2 separate regions of the Homo sapiens genome follow, and region 1 is linked to region 2. A link means that fine-mapping ties the variant in region 2 to the expression of a gene that starts in the linked region. Tissue or cell type: whole blood. Region 2 holds a variant in brackets; the other region holds the start of a gene. All regions are shown on one strand. Distances are between the middles of the regions.

Evidence for each region. PIP is the estimated chance that this variant, and not a neighbour inherited with it, causes the effect.
Region 1: it holds the start of SOX8, and the variant in region 2 is fine-mapped to the expression of SOX8 in whole blood (TOPMed, PIP above 0.99).

What each region holds. Positions count from the first base shown.
Region 1 is chr16:977,885-986,056 of GRCh38, forward strand. SOX8 (SRY-box transcription factor 8) reads left to right here and starts at 3,886. Exons shown (of 3, transcript NM_014587.5): 1 at 3,886-4,460; 2 at 5,844-6,076; 3 at 6,817-8,172. The coding sequence starts at 4,039. The coding sequence ends at 7,502. CEROX1 (cytoplasmic endogenous regulator of oxidative phosphorylation 1) reads right to left here and starts at 3,729. Exons shown (of 3, transcript NR_164343.1): 1 at 1,717-3,729; 2 at 1,141-1,226. It also overlaps a transcript of LMF1 not described here.
Region 2 is chr16:1,006,419-1,014,590 of GRCh38, forward strand. No RefSeq gene overlaps it. Among named protein-coding and RNA genes, the nearest start is that of SOX8, 29 kb to the left of the region's middle. RefSeq lists an enhancer at 3,565-4,184 and a silencer at 7,938-8,139. The variant C/T (reference allele first, on the strand shown) is at 3,942.

The DNA of each region.
Region 1 (8,172 bases), 29 kb before region 2:
ACATACACCACACACTAAACACACACACCACACACATACCACACACATACATCATACACACGCACACACACCACACACCATACACACACCCCACCACACACATACACGCACACACACACACCACACACACACATCATACACACGCACACCACACATCACACACACACAAACACACCCACACCCTGCACACATACACCACACCAAACACACACGGACACACACACACCACACACCATACACACACCACACCACACACATACATCATACACACACACACACACCACACACCATACACGCACCCCACACACATACATCACACACATCATACACATACACACCACACACCATACACACCATACGCACTATACACGCACCATACACACTATACACGCACCACACACACCATAAACACACCCCATACATACATCCCATACACATATCACACATTACATACCATACAAACACACACCACACACACACATGAACACACGCGCCTCCGGGGTCGCCATCCCTAGGAGCCACGGGTAGGGTGGGGTGGTCTCTCATCTGGAAGCATCCCCCAGGCCATCCCTGCACCATCTCATGGGCAGCAGAGCCTGTCCACCCACATTCTTCTCTGCGGCTGTCCTTGGCGCCCAGGCCAGGGCATGTGGAGCTACAAATGTCATCTACACCAGCTCTCCACGCCCGGCACTCACGGCCCAGGGGACAGCCCTGGTCCAGATTCCCCCATCAGGGTATACTTGAAACGTACACTCCCCCTGAAACTGCAAGGCCCACTAGCAGGTGGTGAGGTCAGGGTGGGTGGGGCCATGCAGACACGGCGGAGCAGGCCCCAGCTGAAGGGGTGGGGCAGGGATGGGAGACAGGGGAGGAGGGTGTGTGTGCAGCTCCCCCCTGGATGAAGACATGGGCCCATCAGGTGGACTCAGAGGTGGCTCTGATGGCTGCCCCTCCACTCTCCACCCCCGGGTCCATCTCTTGTCATCAGACACTCTGCTCTAGCTTCCCCAGGGAACACGCTGGCCTCTCCCTGCAGGAGATCAGAAGCTTCAGGGCTCAGCTTAAATGACACCAAAGATGCTTTCCCAGACCATCCTTCCTGAAGTCCCCGCCTCTGAGAGGTGCTTTTGGAGTTACCTGCTGCCTGCCTCCCTCCACAAGGCCAGCGTCTGCAGGGCAGGAGCTGTGAGGGTGGCCCGGCTCCATCCTGTGTGGGAAAGTGCCTGGCACACAGCAAGTGCTTAATTAATACCTGGTGACCCTCAAGCCATCCCGACACCTCCCTCTCTGAAAGCTCCGTCCCGGCGTCCTCTCAGGCCTAGTGGCTCACACCCGCGGAGGACGAGGTCATTTTCCTGGGGACTTCAAGGTGGACCAGAGATGACTCTGGAAGGGGGGTTTGTGGGCACCACTCTGCATGGGGATCCTCACCCACATACCGCCCTCCCGGGAGTGCACCAACACGTCCTCAGCTGACTGGCCTAGGCCCCCACCACCCCGCCACAGAGACTCCCCACCTCCCCACCCCTCCTGTGGCAGCCTGCACGCCCAGCACCTCCCCTGGTGATCACTGCAACCTGGGGAAAGGAGCAGGCGCTGTTGGAGCCTGAGGCAGGGTCTCAGTTGCACAGACCACCGTGCCCCAGAGTCAGGGCCTGGATGCCACTCCCCAACCTCAGTCTCCCTTCCTCCAGGGGTGCTGGAGTTCCCCACCTGTGTCCCAGGGACTTGAAGCTTCCTTGGTGGATGGGGAGCCAGGAAGAGGCCACCCTGCCTGCTCGCAGACCTAATGCAACTGCTTTTCTTTGGCAAAGAGAGCTCTCCACGGAGGTCCTCACCCGGATGGCACTGTGAGCCCGAGTGGGCGATGTCTGCTCTCCCAGGGGCAGGGGGTGGAAGGTGGCACAGTTTGGACCGGACCCCCACCCTCACTGCTTCCACTTAAACCCCCACTTCTGCCTGCCTGCATCCCAGGCCTAACAGATGAGTTCCGCGGGCGCCCCAGGCGATGCTCTGAGGGCCACGGAAGGATGCGGGGACCCCGAGCGGAGGGCAGGGCCTCCAGGGGGAAGAGGCACTGCAGACGGAGGTGTGGGTCTTCCCAGGCAGGTGCCGGAGCCAAGCGAGATGGTGGGACGGGGAAGAGAGGGCAGGCCAGGCTGGCAGCCAGCTCTCCACCTACGATGCGTGGAGCCTCCCAACTCGCGCACTCCGTCTCCCCACCGCTGCTTCCTCTGACCTGGCTGCAGAGATGAGACCGCCCTCCGGGCAGGTGACACGGCCCTTGCTCTTCAGCCTGGAGGCCAATGCTTCCTCCAAAGGCCCTGGCCCCCTCAGCTCCGGGCCTGGCTCCGGTTGTTCCCAATGCAAAGCAGCAAGGGCCCCGGGGTCTGCGGACGGGGGCGGGCGGCCGCTGGGGGCACCAGCTCTCGGCCGGGCCAGAACAGGGGGTAGGAGGCGCGTCCTGTGCGGTCGGTGGCGGCCCCAGGTGGGTGCGGTGCGCTGGCAGGAAGCGGCAGCACGACCCCCGACTTTGCATCTGGACTTTTCTAGTAACGGACCAGCTCCTTCTGCCGACCGGGCCGGGGAGACCGCGTGGCTCAGTGGCTGCAGCGGCCACCGGCCCGGGCGTGGGGGCTTTGAGGGCACCGGCGCGGTAGGTCACCCGGGTTTCGCGGGCCGCAAGCTCGGAGACGCGCGTGTCCCGCGTTGGCTGCCTGACCCGGAATGGCGCAGCCCCTTCGCCTCCAGCGCGCTGGTTGAAAGGATCCGAGCCACCCTCGGGGACGGCCGGGCCGAGGCCACCTCGCGGGGCGGCCTTGGGCGGGGACCCGGACCCGCGGTTGGACGTTCGCCTCGGGGGGGGCAATGTCCCCTCTCCGACCCCGCGGTCCCCACCAGGGCGGCACACCCCGCCCTCTCCCCGCCTCCGCAGGCGCCCAGGGCTCACAGGCTCGGAGCGGCCTCCGCCTCTGCCGGACCACCCAGGGCCGCCCCGCCGGAGGGGCCTCCCCGCCCCCGAGCCCTAGGTCACGCCCGGAAGGCCCGGGGCCCCCGCGTCCGGCCACGCCATCCGCCCGGCGGCCCCAGGGACTCAGCGCCGGGGTCAGCGCAGGCCCCGCCCAGCGCTCCCGCCCCCTCCAGCTGGCCGGCCCCCGGGACCGCGCCCCCGCCCGCGCTCTCCACGCTCGCACTCGTATGGGCAGGGCGGCCCGGGGTCCCCCAGCTCCGAGCCGCGGCCCCTTGAAGCGCGTTACCTGGACGTGCGCTGTCCGCAGACTCTGGACGAGCTGGGCCTGGGCGCTGCGCGGCGGAACCGACCCTGTCCTGGACCGCAGGCAGCAGCTGACCCCGCGCCACCGGCCTGCGGGCGAGACCTCAGGCGCGAGACGGGCTGTGTGTGTGTGTGTGTGTGTGAGAGAGAGAGAGAGAGAGAGAGAGAGAGAGAGAGAGAGAGAGAGTGTGTGTGTGTGTGTGTGTGTGTGTGTGTGTGTGTGTGTGTGTCGGGGGAGGGGCCCGAGGACCCGCTTCCTAGCTGAGCGTCAGGACGGGGGGCGGACTCTCAGGAGCCGCGCGGCGCCCGCAGAGGAGAGGAAGCGCCGGAGACCCCCCTGCTCCCACCCGGCCTCCCTGCCCCGCTTCCTTTCCCGGGGCTCCAGAGAGGGGAGCTCCAGGCGTGGGGCGCCTGGCCCACGTGGTGCGGCGCCGGGCGGGGCAGGCGGGGGCGCGGCGAGAGCCGCGGAGCTTTCTTTATGGGTGGGGGGGCGGGGGCGGCCGGGCTCCGCCTCCGGGGGATCGGGGCGCGCTCCGCCAATGGGTAGCCGGGCGCGGGGCGGGGCCGCGGGGCCGCCGCTTAAAGAAACTTGTTGCGGGTCCCGCAGCGGGACCCGAGCCTCGGCGGCGGCGGCGGCGGCGGCAGGGGCGAGGGTCGGGGCCACCGCGCGGCGACCTCGGGTCCCGGAGCGACCGCAGGGCAGCCCCGGGCGCCGGCCCCGGTGCGCGTCTCCTGTGCGCGCCCCTCCGCGCGCGGCCCCGATGCTGGACATGAGCGAGGCCCGCTCCCAGCCGCCCTGCAGCCCGTCCGGCACCGCCAGCTCCATGTCGCACGTGGAGGACTCGGACTCGGACGCGCCGCCGTCTCCCGCCGGCTCCGAGGGCCTGGGCCGCGCGGGGGTCGCGGTGGGGGGCGCCCGGGGCGACCCGGCGGAGGCGGCGGACGAGCGCTTCCCGGCCTGCATCCGCGACGCCGTGTCGCAGGTGCTCAAGGGCTACGACTGGAGTCTGGTGCCCATGCCGGTGCGCGGCGGCGGCGGCGGCGCGCTCAAAGCCAAGCCGCATGTGAAGCGGCCCATGAACGCATTCATGGTGTGGGCGCAGGCGGCGCGCCGCAAGCTGGCCGACCAGTACCCGCACCTGCACAACGCCGAGCTCAGCAAGACGCTGGGCAAGCTGTGGCGGTGAGTGCCGGCGCCCCGGGGGCGGGGTTCGGGACCTTGGCCGCCCCTGGTCTCGGACTGCGAGCGGGGGCCTGGAGGGCGCAGAGCTCGCGGAGGTGGTGGCCACACGCAGGCTCCGGGCTCTGCACCCCGGGCGGGTGTCAGGGCGGGTCCCAGTGGAAAAACATCCTCTGGCCAGCCGGGGTCCGGCGCCAGCTATGGGAGTCGGGATCCGCGGAGGGCAGCGCCTGGGGTGTGCACCCTCGTGGCGGGTGCGCTCTGGAGCCAGTTCTCCTGGCGGGGAACACCCTGCGGAGGGCCATGGCTGGCACCCCGACGTGCCCTCCAGCCGTTGCGAGTGGCCCCAGCCCCGGGAGGCACGCCCGGCACGACAGCAAGTTGCATGCGGCTCTCTGGAGGTGCTCCCTCCTTAGAAAGGGCTCAGCTCCTCTAGCTCCTGGACCACCCATGGGGAGGGAGTGCGGCAGGCGGATGGGTGGGCAGCAGGTTTGCCTGCGAGTACCCTCCCCGCAGTTTCTCCCTCTCCTGGACACCCTCGGTCCGAAGCAGGGAGGGCAGGAGTGGAGATGACGGGGTGCGCCGTGTGCACGCCTTGGCGTGGTGGGGCCGGTCAGTTTTCCAGAAATTAGGACTGCAGAGTGAAGAACTTGTTGCTCAGGACAGGCCGCCCCCACCGAGTGTCCTCTGGTTGGGTTTCAAATGGTTCTCTTGGTTTGGGGCTCTGGTTCCCGTATCCTGCTCCTCACCTGGAAGAAGGGAGCTTGGAGCTTGCGTATTTGCACCTCCTGCCTTCTGTCTGGATCTAGGGCGCAGCCACGGGGCGCTGTGGACGGCAGGCCCCTGCTCCCCCAAGTCCTGCCGCACAGGCGGTTGGAGGTGAGCCTCGGGAAGAGTCCCAAGGAGTGTGTCCTGTGGCTCAGTGAGGACGGGCGCCTGGGCCCTGCCAGGGCTTCTGGGTGTCTGGGAATGGAGGGACAGCAGCCCAGCTGCCCGCCGAAGGCCGGCACCGTTCCCGGGAAGCCTCGCTTTTGTCCACCGCCGGCTGGGTCCTGCCCGCCTCCCCCGCCTCCCTTAGAAAGCCCCAGAGGGAGGGAACAGCAGGCCCGGAATAGGGGGAAATAGAAGGAGGAAGATGGGAGGCGTGGGGCTTGTTCTTCTTTGGCTGTCGTAAGCATACCAACCTTCCCAAACAGGCGCCGGCCGGTTCTCCCAGAGGAGTGTACTGCCTGGTGCCACGGGAGGCTCCGGAGCGCACGGCAGGCGGGTTTCCCTGGTCAGAGCCTCCTGGCCCCGGCCTCTGCTGCCGGTTCCCCCTGTGGTGTGTGCCTGCGCCGAGGGCACAGTGGGCGCCCTGGCCATCCCTGCCTCTGCCCTGTGCTGCAGCTTGCTGAGCGAGAGCGAGAAGCGGCCCTTCGTGGAGGAGGCAGAGCGCCTTCGCGTGCAGCACAAGAAGGACCACCCCGACTACAAGTACCAGCCACGGCGCAGGAAGAGCGCCAAAGCCGGCCACAGCGACTCCGACTCGGGCGCGGAGCTGGGACCCCACCCTGGCGGCGGTGCCGTGTACAAGGCTGAAGCAGGGCTTGGAGATGGGCACCACCATGGCGACCACACAGGTGGGCTCCAGGCCCCCCGCATATCTGAGGGTCCCTGTATGGGAGGCAGCTGTGGGGTTTCTGGCTGAGAAGGGTGCATGATGGTGGAGGGGGGCAGGCGCCCTCGAGAGAACCGGGCCTTCCCCGGGTTCCCTGAAAAAGCTCCCAAGGCCCCGGCCGCCCCTGTTTTTGGTGCACGAGGGACCTGCTTAGCCACCTTGAGTGCTGAGGGGCTGACAGCTTTGCTTGGCAGGGACCCCGAGAGGTGGTGTTTTCAGCAAGACTCAGTCCAATGCGGGCTCCTCTTCCCACACCGAGCTGCTGCCCACACGGCACTCAGCAGCCCCAGCTTCAGGGCCAGACTGACAGGGTGGAGTCCTGCCGGGGCCTCGGTCAGGCTGGCTGACGCCCGCCAGCCTCAGAGTGCTTGGCTGGCCCGGGGAGGAACAGGGTCTGTGTGGTCCCCCAGCGCCCTGTAAACCCCAGCTCTGGCCAGGCTGGGCCTGTCGGCTTCTTCCCCCCACCTTGGTCTCTGGGAGGGGCCTCGGGTCTTCTCATAGCACAGCGCTTCATGGAATTTTCTCGGCCGAGGAGTGAGGTCTAGGTCTGACTTTGCTGGAATTTCTGGGAAATGTAAAGAAACAAAAAGCCGTTGATCCCCCTGGCAGTTAGCGCGGGCGTCCCTCCCCTTCCAGCCTGGCCGGCCCCACCCGCCCCACAGAAGGGGCATTCATCCCTGAAGCCTGCTCTCCTGTCCCCAGGGCAGACCCACGGGCCGCCCACCCCGCCCACCACCCCCAAGACGGAGCTGCAGCAGGCGGGCGCCAAGCCGGAGCTGAAGCTGGAGGGACGCCGGCCGGTGGACAGCGGGCGCCAGAACATCGACTTCAGCAACGTGGACATCTCGGAGCTCAGCAGCGAGGTCATGGGCACCATGGACGCCTTCGACGTCCACGAGTTCGACCAGTACCTGCCCCTGGGCGGCCCCGCCCCACCCGAGCCGGGCCAGGCCTATGGGGGCGCCTACTTCCACGCCGGGGCGTCCCCCGTGTGGGCCCACAAGAGTGCCCCGTCGGCCTCCGCGTCGCCCACCGAGACGGGTCCCCCACGGCCGCACATCAAGACGGAGCAGCCGAGCCCCGGCCACTACGGCGACCAGCCCCGAGGCTCGCCCGACTACGGTTCCTGCAGCGGCCAGTCCAGCGCCACCCCGGCCGCCCCCGCCGGCCCCTTCGCCGGCTCACAGGGCGACTATGGCGACCTGCAGGCCTCCAGCTACTATGGTGCCTACCCTGGCTACGCACCCGGCCTCTACCAGTACCCCTGCTTCCACTCGCCGCGCCGGCCCTACGCCTCACCCCTGCTCAACGGCCTGGCCCTGCCGCCCGCCCACAGCCCCACCAGTCACTGGGACCAGCCGGTGTACACCACCCTGACCAGGCCCTGAGGGCCCAGCCGCGGGGAGGGACTCGCAGGCGTCAGGGGGCAGCCTTGTCCCGGCCCAGTGTGTGTGACCAGGGCGGGAGGGGCCCCAGTGGCTGAGCTCCAAGTGCCTGCTGAAGTCTGCAGGGAAACACGCTTGCTGCCCGTGGCCCTCGGCCTCCAGATGGCCACACCTCTGCCGACGACGGACCAGCTCCCTCTCCCTTCTATCTTTCTTTTTGAGGTGGTGGGATTATTCCACAAAGAAGGGCTGCCGTTTGGTCCCTCTTCCGTGAGGACTGGCGGCACCAGCACCTTCGCTTTGCATCTCGGTAGAGGAGAAACGGCAGCACAGCCCAAGGACCAAAGGAGGGGGTGGCAGGGGCCTTGCAGGGCGCTGTGAGGTCCAGGCCGGTCTTGGCGCCGAGAGCCCCTGCACTCAAGGCCACATTCCCTCGACAACGGCTGCACGGGCTGTCCGGGATCCGGGGTGTCTGTCCGCAGACTGGGATGAGTCTACTCGAGCATCTCCGGGACCTGCCTGTCAGATCTGAGGTGTCTCCTTGCTGGCAGAGTGCGCTCACGCGAGGGCTGGCTGTGATGAACACATCTCTCTTTTATTTTTATGTTTTTGATAATTTTTATTTTTGAAGCTTAAATGTGTTTCTTCTGAAAGCTGTTAAAGATGTATTTAT
Region 2 (8,172 bases):
GCATCACAAGGCCGATGGGACTTTAGAGAGAGCTGGGGCGGAGCTTCAGGGACTGGGCACGTGGGGTAGGATTTGGGTTATGAGAGGTGGACCCCTCCCCTGCGCCCACCACTCAGCCCCCAGCCCCCAGCACCAGGGGAGGGCTCTGTGCTGGGACAGCTGATGTGGGCTCTTGGGACTGAAGGGACACTGGGCCTTGGATGGGTCCTGGGACCGGTCCTGACCCTGCAGCATGTCAGCCGGTTCAGCCTCACATCCCTGCTCCCTCTGCGGCCACCTCCCAGATGGATCCCTGGAGCTGCGCAGGGGACCTGGCCACCCCACCTGCCCTGTCCACGGAAACCATCACCCAAGCTTGGAGCTGTGCAGGGGACCCGGCCACCCCGTCCCTCCTGTCCACAGAAACCATCACTCAAGCTTGGAGCTGCGCAGGGGACCCGGCCACCCCGTCTGTCCTGTCCACGGAAACCGTCACCCAAACTTGGAGCTGTGCAGGGGACCCGGCCACCCTGTCCGCCCTGTCCACGGAAACCGTCACCCAAACTTGGAGCTGTGCAGGGGATCCGGCCACCCCGTCTGTCCTGTCCGCGGAAACCGTCGCCTGAGCTTGCTCCACGTTCCAGACCGGGGCAGCGGGTTCCCCAAGGCTCCATGGCCGTGGGATGTGAGGGCCTGGAGCCTTCCCGGAGCAGGATGGAGGGGAGCAAGGCGGGAGGGGTGGCGGACAGCGAGTCCAGTGCCTTCTTCTAGATGGGGACAGGCTTTGGTGCTGGGGGACAGAGGGCTGGGCCCTGGGATCGTGGCAAGACAGGCCATGGTGGCCAGCCCGCTAAGTCATGTCTCAGGGAACATGGCAGGAGTCCTCGTGCCTCTTGGGAGCAGACCTGCAAAGGCATTTATTTAGGGCTCTGGGGTGCGGCCCAGGGAGGCTGGAGGAGGCATTTCCCAGGTGGCAGCTCCTGTTCTCTCCTCCCCGAACACCAGGCATGGCCAAGGGGGATCCTGGTGCCTCTCTGCTCCGGTGGGTGTGAGTCACCAGGGCACACAGGCGAGGCCATGGGTGGTGGCTGTGCCTCGGTCTGGCCAGACGGGTCATGTCTCCACCAGGCGCCTGGAATAGCTCTCTGGGGCATCCAGCTCAGGGAAAAGGGTGTGGGCGCCCTGCAGGACGGACGTGGCTGGAGCTGCAGCAGCCCTGCCAGGTAACTGGGACCCAGCCAAGGGTCACACTCTCTGGCCCAGAAGCCAGGAGCCGACCGTGCCCCATCCCTCCCTATTACAGCCCCGCATCCTTCTCCCACTCCTGCTCGGCTGTGCCGTGCCCTTGAGGGGAACCTGGCCAGCTTGGTGCCAAGTGCTGTCACTCCCAGCAGGCAGCGTCCTTCCCATGGCCCAGGAGGGGTGGGGGTTCCTGGGATGCTCCCACCTGGGACTCCAGACTCTAGCAGGGATCCCTGCTGTCTGAACCCCTGTGGCTGACCCCACGGCCCCTGGCCCCGTTTCCTGGTACACCCCATCTCTGTCCCTGGTGGAGCTCCAGCCCTTCATTCCCCTCTCCTCATCACCAAGTCCCCGGGCCCAGGCTTCCCGGTTGGGCAGTGGAAAGCCAGGACATCCTTGGAGGACCCAGGAAGCCCCTTCAAGGGGGACCGTGATGGCTGAGGCCCCAGGACCTCGCGGGGTGATGGATGGGGGTGGACGTTGGTGCCAACCAGGCAGTCTCCAAGCTGGGCCGAGTTTTGGAAATGACCTCGTCTTCCAACCTTCCGCTTCACAGACGGGGCACAGAGGGCAGGGACCTGGGGCCCGTGGGAGGGGATGGCCTCTGAGAGTCTCCAGCGAGGACCCACGGGGCGGTGGCCATGATGAGGGCACCTGCGTTTGTGTCTGGAGCTGCCATACGAAGCACCACCAACTAGGAGGCTCAGGACAACAGAGAGCCCCTCACAGCTCTGGAGGCCAGAGGACCCCTCACAGCTCTGGGGGCCAGAGGGCCAAAGTCCAGCGGCCAGCAGGGCTGGTTTCTCCTGAGACAGGGAGGATCCTCCTGGCCTCTGCCAGCACCTGCTGCTGCCCGTGCTCCCTGGCTGGCGGCCACATCGCTCTGCCTGCGTGTTCGTGGGTCCTCCTGTGAGCCTCTCCTCTCCTCCTTATACGGGCACTCGGGCTAAGACCCACTGACCCCATCCTGGAACCAGTTACACCTGCCATGACGCTGTTTCCAAATAAAGGCACGTCCTGAGGCTCTGTGGACGTGAGTCCTGGGGGACACTGTTCAACCCACTACAGTGCCCAGTTGTAGTTCAGGAAGTTGAGGTCCAGAGAGATGGGGGAGCCCCCAGACTCATCCACACCAGAGACCTGTCACAGATGGGGACCCCAGACACTGGAGAGAGTGATCTGGTTTTAGGGGGTCACCCAGGGAGCTGGAGAACACAGAGAGCTGGAAAGAAGTGGTCAGGGCTGCTGCCTCAGGTGGGCGTCTGCCAAGGAGACTGTGGAGATCTCAGGGGTGGTGAGAGGCTGAGGGTCCATGAACCAGGCCGGATGGCAAGCCAGAATCGGGCTTTGAGAGGTGGCTTTGGGCTGTGATTTAAATAAAGGAAGGGGCCAGGTGCAGTGGCTCATGCTTGTCATCCCAGCACTCTGGGAGGCCGAGGCGGGTGGATCATATTAGGTCATGAGTTTGAGACCAGCCTGGCCAACGTGGCAAAACCCTGTGTCTACTAAAAGTACAAAAATTAGCCGGGTGTAGTGGTGGGCGCCTGTAATCCCAGCACTTTGGGAGGCCAAAGCAAGTGGATCTCCTGAGGGCAGGAGTTCGAGACCTGCTTGGCCAACATGGTAAAACCCCATCTCTACTAAAAATACAAAAATTAGCCAGGCGTGGTGGTGGGCGCCTGTAATCCCAGCTACTCGGGAGGCTGAGGCAGGAGAATCGGTATAAATAAATAAATAAATAAAGGAAGGGAGCATTCGGGGGAATGAGTCAGGGAGACTCCAGGCCTGGAGGATGGGGCAGGGGCCAGCACACCGGGGTCTGTGAGCAGTGGGGAGGCAGCCAGGGCAGGCCCTGCACGCAGCAGGTGCTCAGAGGATGCTAGCAGGAAGCACGTTGCTGAGAGGAGGGCGAAGTGTCAGCGTGGGGCTGGCAGAGGGAGACGCCAGCGAGGCAGGGCTGGTTGGCCCAGGAGCTGCCCCGGTGCCAGGAATTTGGGTGGGCAGGAGCCCGAGAGCTCCCATCTGCACCCACCTGTCAATCCCAGGCAGCCCCAGGCTCTGGGGTGGAAAAAGAGAGGAGCAGGTTGTTCCCAAGGGAGGCAAAGTGCCTCCAGGAGGCCGGGCGACCACACAGCCTGCAAGTAGCGGGGAGCCCGGCCCCAGTGCTGGCGGAGGAGCAAGTGTGGGGGCTCTGGGGTGCGATGGGGCGCTCGGAGTCCCCAGGAAGGGGCATGGGGCACAGGGATCCTGAAACTCAGTGTGTGAGGGAGAGGGGAGACAGGTCTGGAGGAGCCAGGGACACCAGGAGGGGCTGGGCGTGGGAGCCCTTCTAGCCCAGCCAGCGACGAAGGCCCACAGGGACCTAGGAGAAGAGGAGGTACCCCTCGTGTGGGGCGGGGGCCGGGCCGGCCTTGCACGTTGATGATGCTTGCAAGTGGGCCTCTGGGGCCGAGCAGGGCCCCCCGAGCAGTGCAGAAGCTATGCGGGGACCTCTGCAGGGTCCTGGGCTGCCTCTGTGCCTCTCAGCTGAGTGGGGGATCCAACGCTCCCAGGCTACTGTGTCCACTGTGGATGGAGGGGTCCGGCCTGAGGGGAGTGTGGGGGGCGTGGTGGGGGGAAAAGGCCACCAGGAAGCGCTGCTCTGTGGCAAGGGCGGCAGGGAGGGGGACACAGCTGCACAGGTGGGGAGCCTGGTGTCTGGTCCCAGCCCGCTTCTGCTT[C/T]CTTACCCGGCAGCTGCCCAGGCACAGCCGCAGGGAAGCCAGGCTGCATTCACGGCATCTCCGGGAGAGACAGGGCCCCTTTCCGGCCCCCTGTTCAGCAAGTCCTCCCCATGGCTGGGGGAGGGGCCAGGCGTCGCAGCGACCCGTCTGTGATTGTGAACCCATAAAAGTGGCTGGTGGGAGGCCGGGCAGAGGCAGCGGCGGGCTCGGAGGGGCCCTGAAGGACATGCCCCGTGAAAGTGGAGGGCCCAGGCGGCCACACGGTGGTGACCCCATCGTGCAAAGTACTGCCCATTCCCAAGCGGAAGAATGTGTGGAAACGTGTGTGGCTGTGACACGGAACCCAGCGGCAGCCGCTGGGCAGGAGGGGCTGCAGCGTGTGGCCCCCGGGTGGCTCCAACCAAACGGGCCAAGCTGAGGCTGTTCCCACTCGGGGGCCGCCCACTGTGTGTCCACATGGCCGTGGCCCCATCCCGGGACAGGGCTGATCAGGTTGCCCTGCACTGTTGTGGCTTCGGTGTCTGTGGCAAAATGAGACCCCCACCTCTGAGAGACGTGTGGCAGGCGGGGCAGGCGGCCTCAGTCCTGTGAGTGCCTTGCCACAGGCTTTTGGCTTTGCTGGTCTCCAGGCACATGGAGAGACAGACGCTGGCTGAGTGCGTCCTAGGCTGGGTTCCAGGGTGGTCCCAGGAGCGCCGGCAGTGAGCAGTTCAGGGCTGTGGGTGCGGGGCTTGGTCCAGCAGGCAGGAGCAGCCCCGCCCGGGCAAGCCTCCCTGGAGGGAGACAGAGGAGACACAGGGCAGAGACGCAGGGCAGAGACATAGGGCAGAGACACAGCGCAGAGCGGCCAGGGCAGAGACGTAGGACAGAGACGCAGCGCAGAGCGGCCAGGGCAGAGATGCAGGGCAGAGACACAGCGTAGAGCGGCCAGGGCAGAGACGCAGGGCAGAGACGCAGGGCAGAGACACAGGGCAGAGACGCAGGGCAAAGCGGCAGGGCAGAGACGCAGGGCAAAGCGGCAGGGCAGAGACGCAGGGCAAAGCGGCAGGGCAGAGACGCAGGGCAAAGCGGCAGGGCAGAGACGCAGGGCAAAGCGGCAGGGCAGAGACGTAGGGCAGAGCGGCAGGGCAGAGACACAGGGCAGAGCGGCAGGGCAGAGATGCAGGGCAGAGCGGCCAGGGGCCCAGAAGCTGGAAGAGGCGGGAAGGACCCTCACCTGGGGCTTCCGGAGGGAGCACAGCTCTGCTCACACCTCGATTTTAGGCCTGTCTCCAGGCTGCGGGAGAGGACATCGCTGCAGTTTTCAGCTGTGCCATTGGTGGTACTCAGAGCCGGCATTCCCTTCCTGCAGCAGCTGGCCTCGGCGACCCTCACTCCACTATGGCAGGCGTCCCCTGCCTGTCTCCGCACCGTGCCTCAGCCCTGCTCTGGTCCCACAAGGGCTGCAGCTGCCCCGACTCTCCCAGGGCAGAGAGACAAACGGGGGAGCAGAAAGCAGAGTGACCGGGAATGTGCCTGGCGGTCAGGTGGAAGGCCACAGACCCCCGAGGAAGCAGACGTCGTGTGTGGCCTGCCTTGGCGTCCAGGAGACCATCTCCTCCGGTGGGGTCAGACCACAGAGGGGCCCTCTCTGTCTCTGCCCCTTTCCCTGGTGTGAGCAGGAGCACCCGGGCGACAGGGGCGCCTCTTCCTTGCTGCCCCACCCAGAGGGCAGCACACAGCTCAGTGCAGGAGGGACAGAGACCTTCAGGCCCGAATTACCTCCGGCCAACACTCAGCCTGCCCGCAGGACCTCGGGCCACCGTGGTCCTGTCCGCCCGATATTCTTCCAAGTCACCCTCAGCTTCGAGTCTACTTTGAAAGGAGACTCCCCATGGCAGGTTTGAGACACTGCCGGGGTCCCTTCCTGTGCACATTGGAAGAGACGTGGAGGCTCCGGCAGAACGATCTGAGCACCTGATTCCGCACTGGGGCCGCAGCGCGGGCTCCCTTTCAGGGCGTTGGGGGCCACGCTTTGCCCCTCTGTTTAGTAACACTCAGGGGACCCTGAAGGCAGGCAGGCAGGGTCCGCGGGATGGGGAGTCTCACAGCAGCCCACACCCCAGCATCTTGCTGGGAGGAGCTGGGGAGCTGGGTAAATCGGGGAAAATCCATCTCCAGGGCTCCCCTGAGGCTGTCCCCATTCCCAGGAAGGCAGGAATTACCCCACCCTCGGCCAGCCTCTGCCTGCCTTTCCCAAGATGATTCCAGAGCCCAGCAGCTCCTCTGGGACCCACATGGACTAGGCAGGCGGCTGGAGTGCTGTGGAGCACGGGGAAGGGCCATGAGAGCCTGGGACCCTCAGGCTCAGGACACCATCCTGGTGGCTGCTGATGGGGGTCAGCATTCTGCCCCTGCATCCTGCCCCTCTGCCCAGGGTCCGGAGGACTCACCGGGCTGTGCCCCCACCTGTGTGCCCTCCCCATGTCAAAGAGCAGGCGGGGGCGCCTGACAGGGTGAGGCCGAGGGTCCAACCCTCAGCCCCATACTGGCCGCAGGTGGTTCCTGAAACTTGTGGGACTGGAACCTCCTGTTGGCTGAGACCCCGGGGGGTGGTTGCAGAGGTGGGGCTGGTCTGGGAGTAAGCAGGGCAGGACACCTGCGGGGTTGCTTGGCCTCAGGTGGGCAGAGGCTGTTGGGGGCCTGGAGAGCCTGGTGTGACCTGGGGGCAGGCTGGGGTGGGGGATGAAACCCACAGGTGCCCCCAGTCAGATGCACACCCAGGACACACATGCGCACACGCAGGACACACGTGTGCACACCCAGGACACATGCGTGCACACCCAGGACACATGCACGCACACCCAGGACACGTGCACACACAGGACACACGTGTGTGCACCCAGGACACACGAGTGCACACATAGGACACACACGTGCACACCCAGGACACACGAGTGCACACCCAGGACACACCCGTGCACATGGAGGACACACCCATGCACACACAGGACACACATGTGCACACACAGGACACACACGTGTACCACTGTGCAGCCCTGCGCCCCCTCACTGCGTCCTGTTGCAGGCCTGTGTTGCTGTTCCATGTGCTGCCCTCTGCCTGCACGCAGGTGCCCATCGCCAGCGGGGCTGGGATCTTCCTGTGGTGCTCCTTGGCCCCTGCGTTCTGCCCGCCTAAGTGGCCCCTCCGGCTGGTCCTGAGCATCTGCTTGCTCAGCTCTGTCCTGGGCTGGGCTGGTGGCATTGAGGAGGAGCTGGCTGGGCGCTGGGTGAGGCAGGACCAACCCAGGACAGGTGTCCAGCTCTTGACAGGAGCTCCTGGCCCAGGCTGGTGGCTGGGGAGGGGCTGTAGCTGCCAGGGCTGGGAGCGCCTCCTCCACCTGCATCGGACCGTGCTCCGGAGGCCACGGTGCTGTGGAGGGTGGTGGCGGATCTTGGGCAGGCAGAGGCTGCCAGGGGGCCTGGGCGGGGCCTGGGGTGACCCAGGGGCAGGCCAGTGGGCTGTGGAGACTGGTGGTGCTCCAGAGGCCACAGTGCTCTGGGCTTAGAGCAGCTGCACCCGGAGGCATGCCCTGGACGTGGGTCCAACTCTGCGTCATGCAGCTGGGGGGCAATGGACGCGCCCCCCTTCCTGGCCTCGGTGTCCTCCCTGTAGCTGGGATGGCTGAGAGGAGAGGGGAGAGAGAATTGGTTTAGGGGACCTCGCCCAGGAAAGCTCATGATCCACTCTGTACCCACTACGGGGAGGGAGCCGAGTTGTGGGCCCAGGACACCCCTTCTGGCTGGGAGGAAACGGTGGAGGGGCCTGGAATTCCTCCAGGCCTGGGGGTTGCTGGGAGCCCTGATTTACGGCCCCAGCGCCTGCAGCCCCCCTCCTGCCCTGACAGTTCTCGTTGCAGCCTCCAGGTAGGAGGTGTTGGCGGGGCTGGGGCTGGGGTGGGTTTCCAGGTCCCCTCTGCCCATCCTAGGCTCAGTCCTGTGAGCTGAGTGGGTGAGCTGTGTCTGTGGGGCTGGGCTCTGTGTGTGGGCTTCTGAGGGGTGGCCCCGGGCCCCTGTGAGTCTCGGTCTTCCAGTCCGTGGAGTGGGGTGGACTTGTTCTCTGATGCTGGCCGAGGGGGCCTCCTACAGTGGGGGCTGTGGCCTCCATGGGTCCACCTGCCCATCTGTCTGGCCAGCCTGCCCTGCTGGAGGACTCAGTGCCCGAGGCCGGCTTCCTTGTTCACCAAAGGGA